Homo sapiens: one gene and its partners. The protein of the gene in region 1 purifies or fractionates together with the protein of each later gene. This does not show direct contact. Each region holds a gene or a part of one and is shown in the gene's direction. Other genes may lie near its edges.

Region 1 (4,328 bases):
GTTCACGCCATTCTCCTGCCTCTGCCTCCGGAGCAGCTGGGACCACACGCACCCGCCACCACGCCCGGCTAATTTTTTGCATTTTTAGTAGAGACAGGGTTTCACCGTGTTAACCAGGATGGTCTCGATCTCATGACCTTGTGATCCGCCCGCCGCGGCCTCCCAAAGTGCTGGGATTATAGGCATGAGCCACCGCGCTTGGCCAACAATGATTTTTTAGGGACGTGATTCAGCTCATAACATTCTGTACTCTGGACTCCCAAAATTCATGTCCTTCTCACATGCAAGATCCCTTCACCCCCATCCTAACATCTCAAAAGTCTTATTATTATTATTTTTTGAGACAGAGTCTCACTCTGTTGCCCTGGCAGCAGTTCAGTGGTGCAAAGACAACTCATTGCAGCCTTGATCCCCTGGGCTCAAGAGATCCTCCCACCTCAGCCTCCCAAATAGCTGTGACTATAGGCGTGAGCCACCATGCCTGGCTAATTTTTGTATTTTTTGTAGAGACAAGGGTCTTACTATGTTGCCCCAGGTTGGTCTTGAATTCTTGAGCTCAAGCAATCCTTCCACCTTGGCCTCCCAAAGAGCTGGGATTACAGGCCAGAGCCACTGCTCCTGGCCCATTTCAAAAGTCTTAATCCATTTCAGTATCAAACTCTAAGGCCCAAATATTACCCAAATATTATCTGAATCACATATGGGTGAGACTCAAAGTGTGGTTCATCCTGAGGCAAAATTTCTGTCCAGCTGTGAAACTGTGAAGCCAAAGAAGCTATTTGCTTCCAAAATACAATGGTGGGACAGGCACAGGATAGACCGTCAGCCCTGGAAACCACCCTTCTACTCTGTTACTGTAATTTTGATGTTTGTAGATTGCACATGTAAGTAAGCACATGCAGGATTTGTCTTTCTGTGTCTAGCACATTTCGCTTAGCATAATGTCTTCAGGGTTCCTGGATCCAGCCACGGCTGCACATCAGATCTTCACGGAGATCCTAGTTCCCTGACTACTGAGTAACTTCAGCCTTAACTGGCTTCAGCCTCACTGGCAAGACCCGATGGAGTCCACCAGGCTCGCAAAAATCGATTTTGACTTAAATCAGTTCAACTTGACAAGAAGAAAACATCTTAGTTTCCAACAGAAGTGGACCACAACTTTAAGCTTTGACCTTAAAGTCTAAAACATTAACTTAAAATAGGCAGGAAGCAACGCTGCTTCACAGGACAAGAAATAGTCACAAATACTCCTAAATCGGGAGAACAAAGACTTGCTGGGTGGAAGGCAGAGCGAATAACAGGCCCCGCCCACCAAACAGGTCCCGCCCACACCGCCCGTCCCGCTTAGCCCACCTGGCCCCGCCCACTACCGCATCAGCCTTGCCCCACCCTTTCAGGGTTCCCAAATCTGGCCAGTCTTTCTGCCCTTTCCCTTGCGGGTCGCACCCCGCCCAGGCCCCTCTCCCGCCCCAGGTCTCTCAGTCTTTTTTCTCAGGGCGTGTAGCTTCCTGCACACCCGGAAGCAGATCGCGCGGGGAAAAGATCACAGCGCTGCGCGTCAGTTTCCGTCTACCTGGACTAAACATTTGCTTCGCCCCGTCTGCCTGAATCGAACGTGCACTTGGCAGTCTTCCCTTGTCCATACCCGTTTCCTGGGGATCGCTACGGACCTTAAAATACCAGCAACAGCCCCTTCGCCCCAAGTAAGTCTGATAATTGCTTCCCTTTCGGTTTAAAAATCTCTCTGAGGCTGTTCCTTGCTCCCTGCCTTTCTGCCTTAGGACCATGTAGACAACCCCACTCAGGTCGTGTTCCTGCTTAAAACCCTTACTGACCTCTGCTTCGGCCCTGCGCCAAGTCGAGTCCTCACTCGGGAGGTGGATTCCCGCCCGTTGCGACCCCGGAGCTTCTCCGTCGTCAGCCCCTGGAGGGGAGCGCCCGCCGTCCGGCTCCTGAAGGAGTCGCTTCTCCTCCCAGGTCCTGGGATTCTGCAGACCCTCCCTGTCCTGAGACACCGTACCCCCTGCCACCTTGTGTCCTCCTCACGCCGGGTCCTTTCGCTCCCCAGGCTTCCCCTTCACAGCCACTGCTTTTCTCGATCCCCCCCTTGGGGGAGGTCACCTGAGTCTTGTGACACCCAGTGTTCTTCCTTCCCAAATTTTACTCCACTGGAAAATATGCTTTTCCGGGAGGTGGGCATCCTATTCCTCCCCTTTCTTACTGAATGTGTGGGTGAGAGGGATCAGGAGAGGAAAAGAAGGGGAGCGACGGAGCAAAAGGAAAGACCGAATAGAAGAGAATGAGGGAGACCCATAAATACACGGCAAAATGGATGATAATTTAGGGATTTGCAAAGAGACAGCAAGAGTGAAAGAGAACGAATGGAGAAAGAAGCAGGGGGAGGAAAGCACACAGAGAAATTTAGAAAAAAAGGGGGACCTTCAGAGAGATGAAAGGCAGCAAAATAGAGTGGGGCGGCAAAGGAGGAGGCACTGCAGACAGACAGTGGGGAGAAGGTGAAAGAGTTGGAGCCGCAGCCGACAGAGCTACGTGGTGCTGGGACTGAAAGAGAGGGAGAGAGGGCAGTGGGTGACAAGCAGAGTAGAGGGAGAACCACAGCAGGGAGGAAGCCTAGGGAGTTGGGGGTGCTAGAGAGTGGGAACAAAGGAGGTGTAACAGGTAAGAGGGAATTTTAACAAGGAGAGCAGAGAGGGAGCTCAGATGGGGAAAAAGAGGCGGAAATACGTGGAGATTGGGGACAATCAGAAAGATTGGGGAGAAAGAGCTACGAGAGGTGAAGTAAGTTGCAGAGCATCGGGCAGAACAGACATAAAGAGGAGAAAAACAGAAAAGGGGAGGAAAGGTGCAGAATGAGAGAGGGACACACACAATAGTGAAGAAAGTGGGAGAGGACCCCATCCAGATGAGCGATGAGTTGATTGGATATGGATGGTGGTTGTAATATTCTAATTTGTGACTTTATACTCTAATTTAAAATTCATTTCTTTAAATTGTACTCGTGAGGATGAAAATTACCACTCTTTTCTGTAAGGCTTGTGCATTTTGTATTTATTTGTATCAAAAGATATTTGGAATTTCTGTTTAGCCAGAGAGCATTTAAATTAAGTCATTCGTGGTAACTCTTTTCTTCCCTGGGATGGGGTAGAGGATAGAGTAACTGAGAAATGGGGCGATAAATGACTGTCACTGTCACTACAAGGTATGTCTTTTTTTTTTTTTTTTCTTTTTTGAGACAGGGTCTTGCTCTGTCAGACTAGAGTACAGTGCCATGATCTCCGCTCACTGCAGCCTCAACCTCCTGGGCTCAAGCAGTCTTTCTGCCTCAGAGTGCTGGGATTACAGACGGGAGCCACCACGCCAGGCCTACGAGGTATATCTTTGTATGAGTATTCAGAGTCTTATTTTTTTTTGGTAATGGATTTGCTTTTTTCTTTTTTTGGGACGGAGTTTCGCTCATGTTGCCCAGGCTGGAGTGCAATGGTGCCATCTCGGCTCACTGCAATCTCCGCCTCCCAGGTTCAAGTGATTCTCTTGCCTCAGCCTCACGAGTACCTGGGATTACAGGCATGTGCCACCACGCCTGGCTGATTTTGTATTTTTAGTAGAGACAGAGTTTCTCCATGTTGGTCAGGCTGGTCTTGAACTCCCAACCTCAGGTGATCTGCCGGCCTCGGCCTCCTAAAGTACTGGGATTACAGGTGTGAGCTACTGCGCCTGGCCTACTTTTTTCTTTGTAGTTCCACTTAATTCATCGTTATTTTGGAAGCTTGAGATAAGTGTTAGTTTATTCAATATCTGCCTTTCTATAAATAATTACTGACTTCTGAAATAAGATTTGGTGGCATCCTATAATCAGCTGACGTCATTCATTTCTAAATGTTAAGTATTGTCATTTTTTTAAACTTTCACCCTATAACTCATTAAATTTTTCAAAAACTTTCCAAACTGTTAAAGTGTCCAATACAGTATAGACACCACGGTGTACGTTAGATTCCCCTGAACTTCTTCATTTTATAACTGAAAGTTTATACGCTTTGGCCAACATTTTTCCATTCTCCCCACCACCAGCCCCTGGCAACAACTGTTCTACCCTGTTCCTATGAATTGGATACTTTAAAATTCTGCTTGTGAGGTCATACAGTAATTGTCTTTTAGTGTCTGTCTTATTTCACCTAGCGTAATGTCTTCCAGGTTCATCCATGTTGTTGCAAATAGCAGGAGAATCGCTTGAACCTGGGAGGCGGAGATTGCATGGTTCATCCATGTTGTTGCAAATAGCAGGATTTTCTTCTTTTTGATGGTTGAAT
Region 2 (3,625 bases), on another chromosome or scaffold:
AGATTGGAAGTTCGAGACCAGGCTGACCAACATGTAGAAACTCCGCCTTTACTAAAAATGCGAAATTAGCCAGGCATGGTGGTGCATGCCTGTGATGCTAGCTACTTGAGAGGCTGAGGCAGGATAATCGCTTGAACCTGAAAGGTGGAGATTGTGGTGAGCCGAGATTGTGCCATTGCACTCCAGCCTGGGCAATAAGAGCTAAAGTCTGTCTCAAAAAAAAAAAAAAAAAAAAGAATAAGGGTGATAGGGCCAGGTGTGATGACTCATGCCTGTAATCCCAGCATTTGGGAGGCCAAGGTGGGCAGATTACCTGAGGTCAGGAGTTTGAGACCAGCCTGGCCAACATGGTGAAACCCCGTCTCTACAAAAAATACAAAAATTTCCTGGGCATGGTGGCGTGTGCCTGTAATCCCAGGTACTCGGAAGGCTGAGGCAGGAGAGTCACTTGAACCCAGGAGGCGGGGGTTGCAGTGAGCCGAGATCGCGCCACTGCACTCCAGCCTGGGAGACGAGGGAAACTCCATCTCAAAAAAGAAAAAAAAAAGAAGAAGGGTGATAGGGCTGGGTGCAGTGGCTCACTCCTGTAGTTCCAGCACTTTGGGAGGCGGGGGCAGACGGATCACTTGAGGTCAGGAATTCAAGACCAGCCCGGGCAACATGGTGAAACCCCGCCTCTACTAATAATACAAAAATTAGCTGGGCATGGTGGCATGCGCCTGTAATCCCAGCTACTCGGGAGGCAGAGTGGGGAGAATCGCTTGAACTCGGGAGGCGGAGGTGTAGTGAGCTGAGATTGTGCCACTGCACTGCAGCCTGGGCGACAGAGTGAAACTGTGTCTCGAGAAAAAAAAAGAGTAAGGGTGTTAGGCCCTGTCCTGTCAGCAGTTTCTGTCTGTGTTGTGAGGCTCAGGAGGGTATAAGTTATTTGCACCTGAGAGGATTCCCCAGGCAGGAGGCAAGGCATGTAGTTTGAAAAAGTCTATTCCATATAAATGTCTCTGTTGTTTTTGTGATAAAATCTGCAAGAAGTGTGGCTTGATCAAATCTTTTTTCATGAGGATACACAAGAGTACAAAAGCATTGTGAAGGGGAATGGACTAGAAAAGCATCAACCTAAATTATTCCTCCAAGTAGGACAAGTTTACAAATGCCCATGACTTCCATGCAGGCATCAGAGAAGGAAGCACGAGCTGCTTTCATGGAGGCTTAGTAGGAAAAAAGTCTTTTTTGAACCTGTAATTCCTGCTTTAATCTTCCACCTTTTTATGTGATCGTCAGCGATGGCTAACAATGGTCTCAGGATGTGTTGCTCCTCGGAGAGCAGAGCATGTCTCCAGTCTTCCTTTACTCACTCATGCATTCATTCATTTTTTTTGTTTTGTTTTGTTTGGGGACAGAGTCTGGCTCTGTCGCCCAGGCTGGAGTGCAATGGCATGATCTCAGCTCACTGTAACCTCCACCTCCTGGGTTCAAGTGATTCTTGTGCCTCAGGCTCCCGAGTAGCTGGGACAACAGGTGTGCGCCACCACACCTGGCTACTTTTTATATTTTTAGTAGAGACGGGGCTTCACCACAATGGCCAGGCTGGTCGAACTCTTGACCTCAGGTGACCCGCCCACCTTAGCCTCCCAAAGTGCTGGGATTACAGGCGTGAGCCACCGCGCCTGGCCACTCATGCATTCATTCTTGCATTCCAAGTGTGTTTGAGCTTCTCCTGGGAGCTGGGTCTCATGCCAGTCACTGTGCTGAGTGCTGAGGAGACATGATGAACAAGATGAGCATGGCTCCTACCTTCATGAAACTAACCATCTAGAGGGGAGAGAAAACATTATAAATGGGATGAATATGCAGAAGTGCAAGGTGCTGTGGGTATCTGGTCTGGGAGTATTGATCGGGGACAACTTCCCCTAAGAGGTGATGGTTAAGCTAAGAACTGAAGCACAGTAAGGTTTGTAAGGTGAAGGACAAGAAACAACTGACCACTTTCTTTTTTGTCACAGAATCTCGAATCCTGACCTTCTTAGAAACCTACCTTGCCTCGGGTCATCAGAAGCCATTGCCCACAGTCCCTGGGGGACTCAGTCCAGTTCAGAGAGAGCTGGAGGAAGTTGCTATTAAATTTGCTCGCCTGGTCAACTATAACAAGATGGTCTTCTGTCCCTACTACGATGCAATCCTGAGTAAGATCCTCGTCCGATCCTAACGTGTATGCACCCTACAGCAGCAGTATTACTCACTAGCCACAGAATACCTGTTCTGTACTCTAATGTTGCATTGGAAAATGGCTATATAGTACATGTCTATTTAACAGCACCGATTCCAAAGGGAAGAATATTGTGTATCACTGTTGAAAAGACTTGTTGAGAAATCCACTGAATTCTATTTTGAGAGATTGTATTTATGAGTGCAAGTTTACAAATCAAAGAAGCATTTTGTTCTCGAGTTTTACAGGTAACACTCAGCTGTTGTCTCCACTCCTCCCCCATCATGTCCTTCCAAGGAGGCTGGGACCTCTCTCTTCTGCAATCTGGGTAGTTCTTTCAGATGCCTCATGCTGAGCTGACGGCCATCCAAGCGCAAAAGAGACCAAGCCATGGCCTCACCTCCTGCCCTCCCTCAGACAGCCTTGTCCCTCACCCCTCCCTTCTGGTATTTTTGTTAGAAGGGCTATATAACGTCTTATTGCCATTTTCTCCCCCTATTTATTGCTTCCTCCCTGCCTGGCCTAGCCAGGGCTCCCAAGCCCTTTTTTCTAGAGGAGAGTTATTTGTCTCTCTCTCTTTTTTTTTTTACTTTCTTTTTTGTATTTAAACATTCTTTTAACCTTCCCCCAAAGATACAGTTATTGGACTTTAAAAAGCTTGTTCTTTTATACAAAATTACTCCTGCATCTGGTTGAGAGCAGTTATGACTTATGAGATCTAGTGAAAGGAAAGTCTTTGACTTTCAAGCCTTGAAAGTCAAGGAGGAAATGTATTGAAAAATAGTTTACTGTAATGTGAACGAAGAGAAATGTCTGGAATTCTTACTGAAAAATTGACCCTGAGACAATACACAGATGTGATGATTGAATTAAATTCTGGAATTAGATTTAACTGTTTTCAGATAAAATAGCTTGAGTTCACGAATCTCCTAGATGAGGAAGTCATAGGAAATCCCTGGTGTTTGAGCATTATTTTTCAAGGAACTTCAGTGACCAGAATTCCTGACATGTCCTCTGAGCGTGAGTGATTTGGGTCTCATAGACGATCTGTTCTTTTTTTTTTTTTTTTTTTTTTTTTAAAGTGTACACATGTATGTCTGCATTTTAGACAGGGATGTTATATTAGAAGCAGAGCCATGAAGTTGGAATGACCAACTGCCACAACAGCAAGGGGTAAGACTATATTACTGTATGAGTAATGCAGTAATATCGGCACCTGAAGCCTTCTGTACAGGAAGCTAAGAGAAACTTACAAGTTAGCCGGGCGTGGTGGCTCACGCCTATAATCCCAGCACTTTGGGAGGCCGAGGCAGGCAGATCACCTGAGGTCAGGAGTTTGAGACCAGCCTGGGCAACATGGTGAAACCCCATCTCTACTAAAAATACAAAAATTAGCTGGGTGTGGTGGCACGCGCCTGT
Region 3 (3,646 bases), on another chromosome or scaffold:
ACAGGGCTGGGTTCCCATAGAGCTCACGCACCAGGCAGCCGCTGTGGCCTCGGAGGACAGAGGTGGCCTCTCCAGGGCTTCCGCGAGGTTTTCTGGTTTGGGGAGGAGTGTGTGTCTGCTCCTAAACAAACACGTGGTCCCAGGAGAGGAACCGGGAGCAGCTGGGCTGTCTTCTCAACATGCGTTGAGAGAATGGCCATCTTAACTACTGCTCTGGAGACCCGTTTTTACAATGATTTTTTTAAAAAAAAACACCAAGGTGCATTCTGGACCAGATTCTAAAATAATTGGCTTTAGGACTGAAGAAGCCAGGTGTCCCGAGCGGGGCGAGGCCTCCTCCAGCGAGGCTGGGTCGGGGTGGCCTCCTTTCCTCACATCAGGGAGGGAGGAACTAGCAGGGTGGGCCTGGGGGCTTCTCCTATCGTTTAATCCCCTTTCTGTTAAAAAAAAAAATCCTTAGAATTTAAAGAGAATATTTTAAATTAGAAACGAAAAACATGCCCCAGATATCTCCACAGCATTGCTAGAATTTTTATTTCGCATCAACAGCTAAATTAAAACCTGGAAAACCCTTGTCAGCCCCTCCTTGGCCTCGCTTGGTCTGTCCTCCCGCAGTCCCTGCGCTGGGCGTGGTCCTTCCCGAGGGGCACCCCTTGTTGGGAAGGAACCGTCCTCCTGCGATTCCGGAAAGGGCTCAGGCTCGAGGCTCTGCTGGAGAACGTGCTCCTGTGACGTCTTTTCTGCCCTCAGCCTGGCTATGGATGTCGGGGGTGAGGTCTCCTTTCCCTGACTGCGGCCATGGAAGCTTGACGCGGGACCTCCGCACACCTGAGGTTCTCCGGTGGGCACTCGAGAGACTCACGGCTCTCCCTCTCCTCACAGGGACGCGGAGCTTGCAGTGGTGAGAGAGCAGCGCAACCGTCTGTGTGACCTTCTGGGCGTACCCAGGCCCCAGCTGGTGCCCCAGGTAACCCTGTCACCTTCACAGCATGAGGTGCCTGTGCTTCCCTGAGCTCTGGAATGTTCTGGGGCCAGCGGCTGTGCTTAGCTTCTGCCAGCACGTCCACACGGCCCGTTCCCTCGTCTCATGTCAGGACCCCTGGGATTACGGGACCAGCAGAGCTGCCTTCTCTGGCCACTGCCCACACCTGTGGGCCCCTGTGGCATCCAGGCCACTTGCTCTGGGGCGTTTGGGGGGCCGGGGAGTGGGTGGAGCTGGCACCAGCTTGATCCAGGCTCCTCATGCCTGGCCCTGGGGTCTGTTTGTGCTCCAAGTGCCAAGAGTGCCACCCTACCCCTCCTCATCTGCTTCCCATGAGTGGGGCCGGGGCTGGGTGAGAGGCCCCCAGAAGCTGCCCCTGTGCACCTCACCAGCCCGTCACTCTTCTAAAGTAACAAAAACAAGTACCTCAGTTCTCTCGGGGGCTGGGGCCCAGGGTTGCTGTGCTGTCTCTCTAGTTACCAGGGTTGGCTCCTTCCTCTCAGCCTCCTTCCGGCAGGAGGTTATATCTGAGAGGGAGGAGGAGAACCATGTCTAGATACATGGGGGCAGTGGGGATGGGCTGAGCATCAGGACACAGCCTCCCCCATTTCTGTGTGTGTAAAGGCTGAACTCAACAGCAGACTTTGGAATTAAATGTGCTTTTTACATTTTTATTAGGAAAAATTTCAAACGTGTGAATGCAGGTTAAGAGCAGTGCAGTGAACCTCCCTTCCCGCTCCCCAGATGGGGTGCCCTTCCGAGGACACGTTAGTCATGAGCACCTGTCAGCCACATAGCTCAGGCTGCCGGGTGTGTGGGAAACGGCACAAATGGTTTCCTGCAGGAACCGTGTCAGTCCCCACACAGGGCCCAGAGGGGTGAGGGTCCCCTGGCTGGGAATGGTGTGTGTTGGAGCTGACCAGCCTGAGCTTGTCTTGTCTCTTCTTCAGCCTGGTGCCTGCTGAAGCCAGTCCTGGAGCCCATACCTCACCCCTGCCTGGTGAGGATGTCTTGTTCCTGAGGGAGGCCGGTGTGGAAAGCCTCGCACAGTGGTGCCTCCAGCTGTTGAAGGGTAGCGCTGGCCCTTGGAGGCTGGCACTAGCTGACAGCTTTTCCTCTCTGCACCTGCGCTCTGGTGACTTGGGGTGGACGCCTCTGCCTTCACTTGAACACAAATGTGCTTCCTATAAAATCATGTACCAAGAAGTTCCTGCCTTTTGTCTCTGAGCCTGATGTGTGTAGGGGTGATGGAAAGGCTCACTGCCCAGGGGTCAGCCAGAGGGGAGGTGGGCTGCACTCCTCCTGCCTGGAGACCAGGCCCCCTTCTTGCCTGGTGCTGTCCCTGCTGTGGGAGACGTCTGGCCACAGGCAGTGCCCCACCCAGTCTTGGAGAGAGATGAATGTTAAATCAGAGGTTCAAATGCTAGAGAACTGAGAAGCCCTGGTGGCAGGCATGGTCTGGAGTGCTGGGCAGATGCTGTTTCTGGGCCCGTCTGCCTGGTGGGGGTGCTGTCCTCCCCCCTGTGCACACGTGAGCATCGTGCATGTGGCCCCTCTGCAGTGCAGGAGTCACTGATTGATGGGTGTGCCGACCAGCAGCTTCACAAATGTCTGCTGCAAGGGGAATCGTCAGAGTCCAATGTGTGCCTCTACAGTAATGTCGGAAATAAATACCATTCTTGAAATAATTACACTGTCTTAGGAGAGCCTGGGCAGAGTCCACACTTGGGTTTTTAGGCAAAGGGCAGGAGGCTACCTTTGTCTCTGTGTCTGAGCTCGTGCTGATCCATCCCAAAGCTGGTGAGGGGAACGTGTATAAAAATTTCACTGTGGTAGCAACCCACACCCATCTCTGGGACCTGTGCTGTGCTCATAGGGCTTGAGGTGCAGAACCACGGCCAGCAGCACCAAAGCAGCCCCAGGTGTGGCCACTCAGAGGCCCAAGGGCTTGGGTGAGCAACCCTTTCCCTATGTGAGGAGCCCAGGGGTGCCATGTGCGTGGTGTAGATTAGGGTGGCTCCCTGGCCTGCTCTCAGGTGGGGATGGGGCCTGGACACAGGAACATGGGCAGGCCGAGAACTGGGAGGTGCCACCGCATCTGTGAGGCTTGTGAGGTCACCAGGACCACAAGACCAGGACTGTGACAGTCCGTGCTGTGTGTTTAGCAGACAGCTCTTCACGGGATGTGTGTGACGACCTGGCCACACAGGAGTGTGGGGTTAACACACTACTGTTGTTGTGTTTGACCTGGTGGCCAATGGTCTTTATACCCTAAAAGAGCCTTGGGTTACATTTTTACGAGATTTAAATATTTTATTCCAACCTGTGTAATAGGGGTCTCCTCCTCCTTGAACTGTCCCGATTGGCTGGGGTCACGTGGTGAGGGTCCTGGGTGACCAGGCCTAGCCTTGGCCACATGAGTCCACACAGTGGAAAAGGCTTGGCTCCTGTGGTCGGCACACACGAGACTCTGGTTGCGCCTGCTGGGTGTGGAACAGGCGCACCATCGCCATGCCTGCAGCTCACAAAGCTCCTGCTGGCCTGGGATGCACTGAGGATGGAAGGAACAAGTGGCTTCTGAGAAAAACATGATGAACTGTTCTTAGTGCAATTAAAAGAAGATTCCAGATAAATGGCATTTTAAGACATGGAGGCAGGTCGATT

What was found.
Region 2: the proteins of ZNF836 (region 1) and TCP11L1 purify together in Homo sapiens (affinity purification with mass spectrometry, with the first as the bait; one large-scale study listed by BioGRID). This does not show direct contact.
Region 3: the proteins of ZNF836 (region 1) and TBCD purify together in Homo sapiens (affinity purification with mass spectrometry, with the first as the bait; one large-scale study listed by BioGRID). This does not show direct contact.

What each region holds. Positions count from the first base shown.
Region 1 is NC_000019.10:52,168,711-52,173,038, reverse strand, and holds the start of ZNF836 (zinc finger protein 836), read left to right. Parts: upstream 1-1,417; 5' UTR 1,418-1,703; intron 1,704-3,253; exon of another isoform or gene 3,254-3,257; 5' UTR 3,258-3,391; intron 3,392-4,328. UniProt on the Homo sapiens protein: May be involved in transcriptional regulation.
Region 2 is NC_000011.10:33,070,471-33,074,095, forward strand, and holds the end of TCP11L1 (T-complex protein 11-like protein 1), read left to right. Parts: intron 1-2,003; coding exon 2,004-2,206; 3' UTR 2,207-3,080; downstream 3,081-3,625.
Region 3 is NC_000017.11:82,940,517-82,944,162, forward strand, and holds part of TBCD (tubulin-specific chaperone D), read left to right. Parts: intron 1-882; coding exon 883-967; intron 968-973; exon of another isoform or gene 974-989; coding exon of another isoform or gene 990-1,538; exon of another isoform or gene 1,539-1,561; intron 1,562-1,632; exon of another isoform or gene 1,633-1,932; coding exon 1,933-1,947; 3' UTR 1,948-3,646. Other genes in the region: uncharacterized protein LOC124904095, read left to right, coding at 990-1,538.